Linked DNA regions of Homo sapiens. The protein of the gene in region 2 interacts with the protein of the main gene of each other region in a biochemical or structural test. Each region holds a gene or a part of one and is shown on either strand. Other genes may lie near its edges.

What was found. Proteins that work in one complex are often made in the same cells at the same time.
Region 1: of the proteins of CHEK2 (region 2) and REV3L, one has a biochemical effect on the other in vitro, tested with the Homo sapiens proteins (one study listed by BioGRID).

What each region holds. Positions count from the first base shown.
Region 1 is NC_000006.12:111,473,049-111,476,454, reverse strand, and holds part of REV3L (DNA polymerase zeta catalytic subunit), read left to right. Parts: exon of another isoform or gene 1-2,209; intron 2,210-3,406. UniProt on the Homo sapiens protein: Catalytic subunit of the DNA polymerase zeta complex, an error-prone polymerase specialized in translesion DNA synthesis (TLS). Lacks an intrinsic 3'-5' exonuclease activity and thus has no proofreading function.
Region 2 is NC_000022.11:28,687,243-28,689,820, reverse strand, and holds the end of CHEK2 (serine/threonine-protein kinase Chk2), read left to right. Parts: intron 1-605; coding exon 606-686; intron 687-1,834; coding exon 1,835-1,924; 3' UTR 1,925-2,078; downstream 2,079-2,578. UniProt on the Homo sapiens protein: Serine/threonine-protein kinase which is required for checkpoint-mediated cell cycle arrest, activation of DNA repair and apoptosis in response to the presence of DNA double-strand breaks.

The sequences.
Region 1 (3,406 bases), on a different chromosome or scaffold from region 2:
CTGGATGCAGTGGCTCATGTCTGTAATCCCAACACTTTGGGAGGCTAAGGTGGGAGGATTGCTTCAGCCCAGGAGTTCAAGACCAGCCTGGGCAACATGGAAAGACGCTATCTCTACAAAAAAATACAAAAGTTAGCCAGGCAGGGTGGTACACGTTTGTGGTTCCAGCTACTTGGGAGGCTGAGGCAGGAGGATCGCTTGAGCCCAGGAGGTGAAGGCTGCAGTGAGCCATGATTGTATGACTGCATTCCAGCCTGGGTGACAGAGCAAGTCCCTGTCTCAAAAACAATCAAAACAACTTTGTTTCATGTGTAACATTATTTAAAATTATATAAAATTACATTCAGGTTTGGTCCCATCCTCAGGATATCTCATGTATGTGCAAATATTCTAAAATCTGAAACACTTCTGGTCCCAAGCATTTCAGATAAGGGGTATTCAACTTGTATATGAAAATGGATCCCACCTTCATTTATGAGTAGGGAAAAGAAGAATTGTTTAATAAACAGTGTTGGGATAGCCAGTTAGTCATCTGGAAAAATAATGTTGGCTTCCAGAGGAGTTAAAGATTTAAATATGAAACAAAGAAACAAAAAAGGTAGGGTAATTATTTTTTACGTAATCCAGGATTGGTGAAGTCCTTTAATAGCATACTGGGTTGCTGGATTTTAGGACATAAAAATAAAATTCTGTACAGGGGAAAAAATCAAACAAAGTTAAAAGAGAAACAGACTAGTAAAACTTATTTGTATACTTCACAAAGGGCTAAGTTCCTCTTAATACAAAGAACTAGAAAATAATCCAGTAGAAAAATTAGCAAAGAGAATTCATATGAAAAAATGTACAACTTTATTTATAATATAATAAAGATGTAAATTCAAGCTACAACATACTCTTTGTCACCTATCAAATGAGCAAAGGTTATGTATAGTATAACTCGGGAAAGGTGAGAAGAGAAAATGGTCAGCCTTATACATTGCTGGTGGGATTATAAAGTATTCATACTCTATAGAAAGCAGTTTGAAAATGGTTTTCAAAAATTAAAACACAGATTTATTTCGTTCTAGTAATTCCATTATAGGATTTTATTCTCTAGAAGATTTTGCATATATGTCAAATAAATATCTAAGAATATTTGTGGCAGCATTATTTGTTACTGCAAAAGATTGGAAACATGCTAAACATATCAGTAGGGAAGTAGTTAGGTGAATTATGGTGTATATATTCAACAGAATACTAGTCAGCCTTTAAAAATAATGAGAGAATACTATGTGTACTGCTGTGGTGCTATGTCAAAGATATGAGGAAAAAAAGCAAGAGGCATGACTGCATGTGCAGTTTGCTGCCATTCGTGTGGTTAAAATATATATTTTTATATGCTATATATGCCTATGTATTAGAATAAAATTCTTTATTATAATAAAATCCATATGTGTGTGTGTGTGTGTGTGTGTGTGTGTGTGTGTATATATAGGCAGCTATAGAATGTAATGTGCATGGGAGGATACGGGAGAGTCTGATGACAGTAATTGCTCCAGTGTGTAGAAGTGGTTGCCTAGAGGACAAAGATGGACTAACTTTTAAAGTATACTGTTTGGTAATTTTTCAGTATTTTAAAATCATGTGCATGTAATACTATTCAAAGTTAATATTTTTAAGTTATGTTTTGCTTACAGGAATTGGTAAGAAGGAAAAAATAAGAGACCATAATAGTTGTTACAAACAAATGATTACTGCAATACTGTTTTTAACTTTAGTTATTGTTAGAGATCTTCTAATTCAAAGTTTTCAGTTGATGTTACATGGCTCACAGAAGGGTAGTCCTAGTAGAATGGGGGCTGAAGGAAGGCGTTGGGGTTCCTGTGAACAAATAGCATGGTGAGTGACAACCAACAGTTAAAAGCAGCATACTGCTCCTTTTGATATTTTAAGTGCATTAAATGAGGTGTGCCTTACTACTTGGAATCTACTTCAGCAGCCAGCCACAGTGTACAGCTGCCTTTTGTGGGAAAGGGATCATGGAATTGTTACTGGAGTTTGTATTCACGGTGCCGAAGGAACATGCCACCTACCACAAGGTGCAACCCACTTACAATGAGAGGACAAGGAAGCAGGGAGGGTGTCTCTGGTGGCCCAGCTCCAGGCCTGACTATCTGTATTCACCTGTATTGGATGCTGCTCACCACGTGCGTTTGATATGCTCTGCAAGGTGACTGCCTAATAGTGCATGTATGTTTGTCAGAAATAAAGCATGATTTTAATTTTGAAATATTCTTGATGTGAAAATGTTTGGTTTTGAAATTCATATTAAAATTTTCAGCATTACATGTGTCAAAAAATATCTACCATAACACTTTACATTTTTTCTTCTGTAATTAGAAAATATGATAATTTTTTTTCACCAGGCACTGTGTAGATGCCTCCAAATGCCCTCCTGTTGTCCAGTGTGCTAAATTTTTTTTTGCTGACAAGTTTTGTTTGCAATGTTAAAAGGGTTGAGAAGCATCATTCTAGTCAAATGTACTCATTTTGTATGAAGAAAACTGAAATCTACATAGCAGGCTCAGGGATTTGTCCAGTGTCCTACAGTTGGTTGGTGTGAGGCTGGATTTGAAAATTGGGGATCTTGGATCTTGACTCTTCAGCTCTCATCACCTCACACTGACCCCCTCTCCCCCCGAAACATGAGGGAATATTGGAGGAAGGCATTGATGATAATTGAAAGACAAAAATACAGAACCTCAGAGGAATTATTAAAAGAACTGCACATATGTAGTTCAGAAATCTTTGAGACCCTACTGTATCTAATAGTGCTTAGAATCTTCTTATATAATAATATTATTAATATTCTATAATCTAGAATAGATTATAGTAGGATTCGTTTTATGATGACTTGGGCTGTATCTTTAAGAAAACAAAAGATTATAGCAAAAGGAGTTTAGGGCAAACATAAATAAAAATTGATACTAAAATCGTATGTATGCTATTTCCAAAAAAGGGAGGAGGGAATATATGAGACCTTTCAAGTTCCTCTGGTACTATAATTACATTTTCTCTCATCTTGCTTTTGATTGGATTAGAATTCACGCAATTAAAGATAATCTAGGGCCAGGCACCTATAATCCCAGCACTTTGGGAAGCAGAGGCAGGAAGATTGCCTGAGCCCAGGATTTTGAGACCAGTCTGGGCAACATGGCAAGACCCCGTCTCTTTAAAAAAAAAAAAAAATCTAAGTGAAAAATGATTCAAGTCTAAATAGGTTGGGTTAAAGTAGGTTTTAGAGGATGTTGTCATTGGTGCTGGATATTTCAAAGAAATAGTTTGAACTTACTTATAAAGTAAGAAATGGGCCATGGTATGAGGTATGTCACTCTGGTATCTGGCTGCCATTTTAACATCATAGTGA
Region 2 (2,578 bases):
CTCCTGCAGCATGAAACCCCTCACCTCCCGCTCCTGCAGCAGAAACAAAATACTTGGTTCTGTTTATTGTCTCCCTTTCTCATTAGACCTGAGCTCTGGGATACTGTGGGCTTAAGTACTTCTGAAAATTTGTATGGCATCTGCTGGGTGAATTTTCCTAGGGTGCTGGGCTGGTTGTTAGGACAGTCTGGGTGACTGGCCTCATTCATGGCAGGGGCAGCAGGTGGAGAGTGGTCCGGGAAGGATTTGAGGAGCTGCACGGAGTCAGGCCCAGCCTCTGGCCTCCTGATTGCCACCTTTCTCAGGATCTTGGATACTAATTAAGAAACTCTTGACTGCTGGAGGCTGTGATTGACCCACTGAGAGCTTTTAGGCATGTGGATGTGAGTCAGCCAGGATTGATGGAGCATTGACTGCTAATTAGACTCCTCTGGGAAGGTAGAGGCGGGCAACACATAATGCCTTCGCTGTGGGAGCTTCATCAAGGGGATGATTCTTGGACGGACATTTTTCCTCCCTCTTTCCACAGGGGCATGCTAGCCCTGTCATTCTAGGAGTTTATTATCCTTCAGACACAGCTACTTATGTTTTTAATTCCCTCACAGGATGAAGACATGAAGAGAAAGTTTCAAGATCTTCTGTCTGAGGAAAATGAATCCACAGCTCTACCCCAGGTTCTAGCCCAGGTATTCGTATTCCTGATGATCACTAAATGTAGTCTGGGCTTAAGGAGCTGATAAGCAAAGATGATGAAATTCAAGATTTTCCTGAGTAGCAATTGCTTAACATTGTTTCAGTTATAATGTAGTAGAAACTCTGTTTTAACTTGATTCGCTCCAGCACCCTTAGATTTAAAAATGCAGGATATGTTTAATATCTAACACATAATAGACCGATAAGCACAGCTAGGGATTGTCATCCAAAAGGTCACCTGCAAGGCAATTTCGAAAGACTCTATTAGAGGCTCAAATATAAATTTGTTGAACAAATTAAAATTTGGGTCAGTAGTTGATTCCTTGATTACAATTTTATTCTTTAAAGTTCTTTGTGAGTATAAGTTAATTCCAGTCCTGCTTTTTTGTTGTTGTTGTTGTTGTTGAATGGTAGCTGTCCTTTTTCCCACTGTTTCCTCCCCCCAATTTTTTTTTTCTTGAGACAGAGTCTTGGTTTGTCACTCAGGCCGGAGTGCAGTGGTGCAATCTCAGCTCACTGCAACCTCTGCCTCCTGGGTTCAAGCAGTTCTCCTGCCTCAGTCTCCCGAGTATCTGGGATTACAGGTGTCCGCCACTGTGCCCAGCTAATTTTTGAATTTTTAGGTGAGATGGGGTTTTGCCATGTTGGTCAGGCTTGTCTCGAACTTTTGACCTGAAGCGACCTGCCCACCTCGGCTTTCCAAAGTGCTGGGATTACAGCTGTGAGTCACCGCACCCAGCCTTCCTCCCAATTTTATATATGGGAAAACAACTAAGGCACAAAGGTTGTCTTCCCGCAAAAGACCAAGACTTGGGGCTTCAACTGAGAGGTATTATAGTCCTTTTAAACTTGATATTTAGAAGAGGACGATCAAGAGGAAGTTGGTTATGCTACTTGCTTTCAGTATACATCGTTCAGAGGTCAGAAGCCATAAGGGAGAGAAATATCTATTAGATAAGCATGTCTGAGTTGGGGGCTGTGGTGAGGACTCAGTTGTCAATGATGACAACCAGTAATTTTTGGTTCTAGAATTTCACATCAAATGCCCCCACTTTACTGGAAGCATATTGAGGAACTTTGATAATCTTAAAGAAGCCAGTGATTTTCTTTTGAACATTTCTCCATTTTCCTTTATTTTCAGCCTTCTACTAGTCGAAAGCGGCCCCGTGAAGGGGAAGCCGAGGGTGCCGAGACCACAAAGCGCCCAGCTGTGTGTGCTGCTGTGTTGTGAACTCCGTGGTTTGAACACGAAAGAAATGTACCTTCTTTCACTCTGTCATCTTTCTTTTCTTTGAGTCTGTTTTTTTATAGTTTGTATTTTAATTATGGGAATAATTGCTTTTTCACAGTCACTGATGTACAATTAAAAACCTGATGGAACCTGGGCTTTGTGCTTCTGCTTGATAATCGGTTCTTTAGTTGAATGGCTTTATTATTTATTTATTTGAGATGGAGTCTCACTCTGTTGCCCAGCCTGAATGAAGTGCAGTGGTGCAGGCTTGGCTCACTGCAACCTCTGCTTCCCAGGTTCAAGCGATTCTTGTGCCTCAGCCTCCTGAGTAGCTGGGATTACAGGTATGCACCACCATGCCTGTTAATTTTTATATATTTTGTAGAGACAGGGTTTTGCCATGTTGGCCAGCCTGGTCTTGAACTTCTGACCTCAGGTGATCTGTCTGCCTCAGTCTCTTAAAGTGCTGGGATTACACGCATGAGCCACTGAGCCTAGCCTGAATGGCTTTTTTATATTTAAAGTTGTGTGCCTTTCATCTGGAGCTACACCTTGGCTATCACTAGGCAGGTTTCCCAGGATGTCACCCTGGTCTCAGCCTGTGAGAGCTGAATACAAATTCTAAGGGCCCCTTGGAAAGTTCCAGGGAAGGGA